2 linked regions of the Homo sapiens genome follow. The protein of the gene in region 1 interacts with the protein of each later gene in a pairwise test. Each region holds a gene or a part of one and is shown on either strand. Other genes may lie near its edges.

What was found. Proteins that work in one complex are often made in the same cells at the same time.
Region 2: the proteins of SLC44A1 (region 1) and C11orf58 interact in a two-hybrid assay, tested with the Homo sapiens proteins (one large-scale study listed by BioGRID and IntAct).

What each region holds. Positions count from the first base shown.
Region 1 is NC_000009.12:105,363,151-105,366,650, forward strand, and holds part of SLC44A1 (choline transporter-like protein 1), read left to right. Parts: intron 1-1,404; coding exon 1,405-1,570; intron 1,571-2,332; coding exon 2,333-2,489; intron 2,490-3,195; coding exon 3,196-3,279; intron 3,280-3,500.
Region 2 is NC_000011.10:16,755,647-16,758,840, forward strand, and holds the end of C11orf58 (small acidic protein), read left to right. Parts: 3' UTR 1-2,694; downstream 2,695-3,194.

The DNA.
Region 1 (3,500 bases):
CAACCTACTTCATATTCGTCTTTTTTTTTTGAGACAGAGTCTTGCTCTGTCACCCAGGCTGGAGTGAAGTGGTGCTCTCTTGGCTCACTGCAACCTCCGCCTCCCGGGTTCAAGTGATTCTTCTGCCTCAGCCTCCTGAGTAGCTGGGACTACAGGCACATGCCACCATGCCTGGCTAATTTTTGTATTTTTAGTAGAGACAGGGTTTCACCATATTGGCCAGGCTGGTCTCGAACTCCTGACCTCATGATCAGGTCAGGACGCCTGCCTTGGCCTCCCAAAGTGTTGGGATTATAGGCGTGAGCCACCGCACCTGGCCTTTTATTTTTTTTGAGACAGAGTGTCTCTCTGTCACACAAACTGGAGTGCAGTGGTGTGATCTCAGCTCACTGCAACCTCAGCCTCCCAGGTTTAAGCGATTCTCCTGCCTCAGCCTCCCGAGCAGCTGGCACTACAGGTATGCACCACCATGCCTGGCTAATTTTTGTATCTTTAGTAGAGACAGGGTTTCTCCATGTTGCCCAGGCTGCTCTCCAACTCCTGGCCTCATGTGATCCATCCACCTCGGCCTCCCAAAGTGCTGGGATTACAGGCGTGAGCCAGCGTGCCCAGCCCATATTCATGATTTTTTAGAACATCCTAGCAATGTAAGTCTAGATCAGGGAAGGCCTGAAATTGCACTCTAATTTTGAAATGATCATGAATTTGAAGTAAGTTCCAATACTGACTCAGACATTTAGATTCATTCTAAGATGAACCAGTGAATGCAATGTCACTCAGGAGTTACCTCAAATCCCAGGTATAGCCAAGGATCTACTTACTTCCTTGGGATTTTCTGGTTTCGAAATGATCTGACCCTAGCTAGAGCTCCAACTGATGATATAGTTCATAGTTAGACACTCAGACTTTCTTACAGCCGTACTGAGTATCAAAGGTTAAGCTTAAATGGAACTAATTGTAAAGAGTATCATAAGGATAGTAAACTTTTATGTAACTATGTAACTTATCTGTCCATTCAGCACACACACTTAGCAACTGAATATAATAATAATTTCTGTACTTTGCTAAGAAATCTGTAATGATTGGATAAATAATAGGCCTTGAAAAAAACTGAAGTGTTTGAAAATTCATGCTTAAATAATTGATAATATAAGAAGAGTTTTATTAAATATAACAACTTTTAAAAGCTTTATATGATGCCTTTGAGGACATCAAAATGCATAATAGTACAATTCTTAATTTCACAACTTTTCAAGTGATAGTTATTTTTGTCCCTTTATGAAATACCACACAGATCAGAAGGTTTGTGGCTTGGGGTAGGGACCTATTGCCTTCTACTTAACTGCCGTATTTCTGGATTTGTACTTTATGTGCTTCTTCTTTCCTTCCTTGATATTTTCCTAGGCAGTCCTGTTCAGAATGAGCAAGGCTTTGTGGAGTTCAAAATTTCTGGGCCTCTGCAGTACATGTGGTGGTACCATGTGGTGGGCCTGATTTGGATCAGTGAATTTATTCTAGCATGTCAGCAGATGACAGTGGCAGGAGCTGTGGTAACATACTATTTTACTAGGTAAGAATATGTTGTTATTAGAAAACTCGAGTTCATCTAAGGGATGGTGTCCGCAGGCTGGAGGGGAAGGGAATCAGACTGGGGCTGGCAGGAGTTTCATTTCTTTAACAAAAGAATTAGAAATGAATATGACAGAGTGTTATATATAGTTGATAATTCTGGGAGGTGGTCAAATGAGAGATTGTTGTTTTATTCTTTATACTTTTCTGCAGTTGTCTCATAAAATTTATTGCGATGTCACAAATTGTATTTAGCAGAAGAATAAATCTTATAGTGGTGCCATATGTACTTTTGCTTTATATAAAAGTCCATCAAAGGACAACAAGTCTTTTTAGTTTGTTTAGACCGGAACAAGTGTGAGTTCCCTTTGCTAACTTTAGAGCCAAATATGAAAGCTTTAGGTCTCATAATTTTCTATTATAATTAGATGCCAAGTCTAAATTTAACATCTTTTTAAATTCTGTTTTCTGATGACCCCATAAGTATTCACTAATAAAAGCTTTCAGAGCACAGTTTTATTTAACTTGAAGTATTAGAGCATCAGAACCCCATGAAACTACCATAGAGCAATGACATTAATTTTATATAGCATGTCTGTAGCATTTGTAATAGTTATATATCACTTGGCCATTTTGTCATAAAGCTAAAATAAGAATGATGAGCTGATTTTTTTTTTCACTGCGTTGGACTCTAAACCATACCTGTGTTTCCATCCTGATCTAGGCTTTGTTTTAATTGTCTTTTTGGTCATTTTTTAAATAGGGATAAAAGGAATTTGCCATTTACACCTATTTTGGCATCAGTAAATCGCCTTATTCGTTACCACCTAGGTACGGTGGCAAAAGGATCTTTCATTATCACATTAGTCAAAATTCCGCGAATGATCCTTATGTATATTCACAGTCAGCTCAAAGGAAAGGTAAGGGGAAAATGCATTTCTGTACTTTCTGTGGGCACATTCCAGACCTCAGTTCTGCATGTAGTAAAGCACCCAATAATGTTAAATACAAAGTTGTGTTTTCTTCAAAGTCTTTACAAGGCAAAATCCAGCCCTTCTCCCTTGTCTCCCACTCATGCACTCCATATGCTCTGGCAAAATTCATCCAGTCACTAGTAACTAAAAGTATCCTGTGCTGCTCTTCCTCTCTGTTGACTCACATACCTTCCTCCTTAGAACTTCTTCCCTTCCTTGACTGTGGGAATAACATGCACTTCAACTAGTTTAGCTCAAATTCTACTCCTTTGTAGAAACCTTTCCTGATTCCTCCCATCTCCCAAACAATGCTGTCTCTTTGTTCTCCACTCTCATAACACTTAGTATCTATACTATATTCTGATTCTAACCTTTTTTGTGTTTGGTATTTTTTTTCTCCTACTAGATTGTAAGTTCCTTGCAGGTGTTATAAACTTCACTGTATATGCAGTAGAGACTAAATAAATATTTAATTGAACTTATTAAAAATAATTCAGTCATTATGTTTTAAGGAGAAAGTGGACAAGTATGGAGGCTTTGAAGCATAAATTGTGATTTTTAAATTTTTATTTATTTTTCTAACGTTTGAAGTCTTCTATGTGACAGTTTGATTCTTTGGTTTTTTTATTATTTCCATTTTTCCCCCATCCAGGAAAATGCTTGTGCACGATGTGTGCTGAAATCTTGCATTTGTTGCCTTTGGTGTCTTGAAAAGTGCCTAAATTATTTAAATCAGGTAAAATATTTTAAAAATAAATCTAATATTTACTTTCAAAGATAGGTTCATTGTTTCTTCTCCCAAGATAAACTTAATTGAAAGATGTTATGTTTTTCTTGTGGTATTGTACATTGTGCCTTGATAAAGTATGTCTATTTCAATCATATTCTTATTTTTTAAATTAATGTATATGCTTACCAAGGCTCATTATTATTTTAATTTTTTCCAACTTTTAGGTT
Region 2 (3,194 bases), on another chromosome or scaffold:
CACTTGTTAAGATGGAGTTATAACTGTCATACATTTGGAATATTATGATCCCAAGTAGTCTTTTTATAATTTGGATTGTATCGTATGTTAGATTTTTGATAAAATTTGGCCAATTTTTACAGAAGAAATTCTCTGATCATTTAGTTCTGTCTATTTAGAAATATGTAAAACTGGATTTTTTTTTAAGTAATATGTGACCAAAGTTAATTTTGTCCCAAAGGTCTAAATAAAGAGCAGTTTCCCATATTTGGCTGTGATACCTTTATCCTCATTATCTACAAATGAGGAACAGGCTTACTGATAAGAAGCTGAAACAAGAAATTCTCTTCATTTTATCCCAGTGCTATTTTATTGATTAATTACTAAAAAGTATTACTTTCTAATTTTATTGCTGTTTCTGTTGGTGTGAGATTAGAATCATCTGACTGCTATTAGGTGGTTGATTTGTATAGCTGATTAACACAAATTGCATTATGAGCTAGTAAATGGATCTTTGGATAATGGGGTCCAAATTCTTAATGTTTATAAGTAACAAGTTCAAAGGCTTTAGTCACACCTGTTTGTGAGCTGAGCTATTATACATCTACATACTTAAAGGATGTATTTGGAGTGTTGGATTTTTTTTTTTTTTTTTTTTTTTTGAGACGGAGTCTCATTCTGTCGCCCAGGCTGGAGTGCAGTGGCGCGATCTCAGCTAACTGCAACCTCTGCCTCCCAGGTTCAAGCGATTCTCCTGCCTCAGCCTCCCAAGTAGTTGGGACTACAGTCATGTGCCACTACTCCTGGCTAATTTTTTGTATTTTTAGTAGAGTTGGGGTTTCACGGTGTTAGCCAGGATCGTCTCGATCTCCTGACCTCGTGATCCACCCACCTTGGCCTCCCAAAGTGCTGGGATTACAGGCGTGAGCCACCACGCCCAGCCTTGGAGTGTTGGAATTTTTAAAAATTATTCTTATGTCACTTTGAAATGTAGAACGTGTTGCCATGTGCGGTGGCTCACACCTATAATCCCAGCACTTTGGGAGGCCGAGGTGGCTGGATCACCTGAAGTCAGGAGTTTGAGACCAGCCTGACCAACATGGAGAAACCCCATCTCTACTAAAAATACAAAATTAGCTGGGCGTGGTGGTGCATGCCTGTAATCCCAGCTACTCAGGAGGCTGAGGCAGGAGAATCACTTGAACCCAGGAAGCGGAGGTTGCAGTGAGCCAAGATCACCCCATTGCACTCCAGCCTGGGCAACAAGAGCAAAACTCCATCTCAAAAAAAAAAAAAAAAAAAATTTAGAATGTGTTAGAGAAATTTAACAAGTAGAACAGGTGATTTCTGGTTGATAGACTCTATCTTGCAGTATATTTATTTCATGTATCAGACCCCAAAGTTGTTGCCTTGTTATTTTTTTAATTTCTCACATTTTTGAAAAATAGATGCTATCCTCTATAGTAAAATATTGAATCACTTTATAGTAGACAATACATATGACATTTAACAAATACTTGGTTTGAAAAAGTTTGGCTTTATTCAACAATTTTAGTTTGCCCACTGATTTTCAAATGTCTGTGGGATTGCTTATAACTAAGTAGAAAGTGAAGACTGATTTTTACTTAAGAATGGGATAGAGATGAGTTTTATGGTTTTTAAAAGTATTTTCAGTTCATTATTTAAATGTTGGGTTGTTGATATGGTCTTGTTTCTGATAAGGAAATAGGAGCAACTTGTTTTAAAATAACTACACTAAAAGACTTTCTTCATCTCCGTATAGAGAAATCCAGATTTCAATTAATTCATTTATTGGGTGCTAACAAAATTCAGGGTTAGAGTAAATTTAGGTCTGTTGGTCCATGTGGCCTGGTTTCCTAGCACCCATTAAACATAATGCTATCTTTTAAGCCTGAACATGTGGGTTTTTTAAATCAAATTGGAAAAAAATTAGACAACTGATGTCATGCTGTCTTGGTATCCATACTAAAAAAGTATCAGGAAAATAGATTATTTTTGTGCTGTGAAACACTATTCAGTGGAAAGTTTAGTGGCAACTTTTCCATATCATTCATGACTTAATACCTGAAATGCACTTTTAAATGTTTGCCTTATATCCAAGTGTTTACTTGTATCCATGACCTAACCGTCTATTGAAAAGAATGTTTGCAGATGCAGATTGCAATGTTGTTTGTATTCATAGGCAAAAGTCCTCTTCTCTAGTATAATTTTTTAAATCTGAGAGAATTGAAGGTACAGAAAAAAATTCTGGAGTGCCTGAACCACAGTTTGAGAGCACAAAGGTCACATTCTTTCAGTAAATTTGGGGGAAATAAATTTCAGCTACCTGGTTAGCTTCAGTGACTACTTACACACAGGGCTTTGGTTCCATTACTTGTTTCCACCACAGCCACATCCTAAATACTTGGAATATCCGAAAACAACTTCTAAAATCACTCAATAAAAGTATTCACTTCTAACCAACTCCTCCTCCTTTATACCTGCTCTGTGTTAGGGCGTAGTCTGTTTCCACCTCTGTAAGTCCTATCTAGGCTTCCTGATCTATCAATTCAGTATCATGATTGTTAACCCAAACGACTTCCTGGAAAATTCCCAGCCCTAGATGTATCCAAGCCCTCCTACCCTCACCAGTTATTTCTGGAGAAAGATCACCAAATGTATAAATCCGTATTAGTAAAAATTGGTTTTAACTGACCTCAGCACTGCCCATTACCCTTATTTTCTCTAGTCGGTTCTCCATTCTTACTATGTAAAACTTATACTCTGAAACTTGTTACCCTCTTTTTTTCCTTCACTCTTAACATGTCCTTGCCTTCTATCTTACATAAAAATAGAGACCTTCAGGCACAAATTCCCTGAACTTCACTTACTAAATCCACAGCCATGGACAAGATTCTGTGCTCTAGGTTGTGACATCCCAACTCTACCACAGGGCTAAACTCGGTGACCTTGAGCATAAGTTGATCTCTCTGGGTCTCCTTTCTGGGTAAGTAAAATGAGGATAGTAACAGTAACCCCCTTTGCATAGTTAGTTATTGTGAGACTTAGGTAAAATGAACAAAAAGCTTAGTGCATAGATAAGTGATCAGTAAGTGCTGGCTCCTGGTTCCCACCACCCCCTCTGCCGCCCCGAGATGGGGTCCTGCTCTGTCACCCAAGCTGGAGTTCAGCAGCATGATCATGGTCATGGCTCA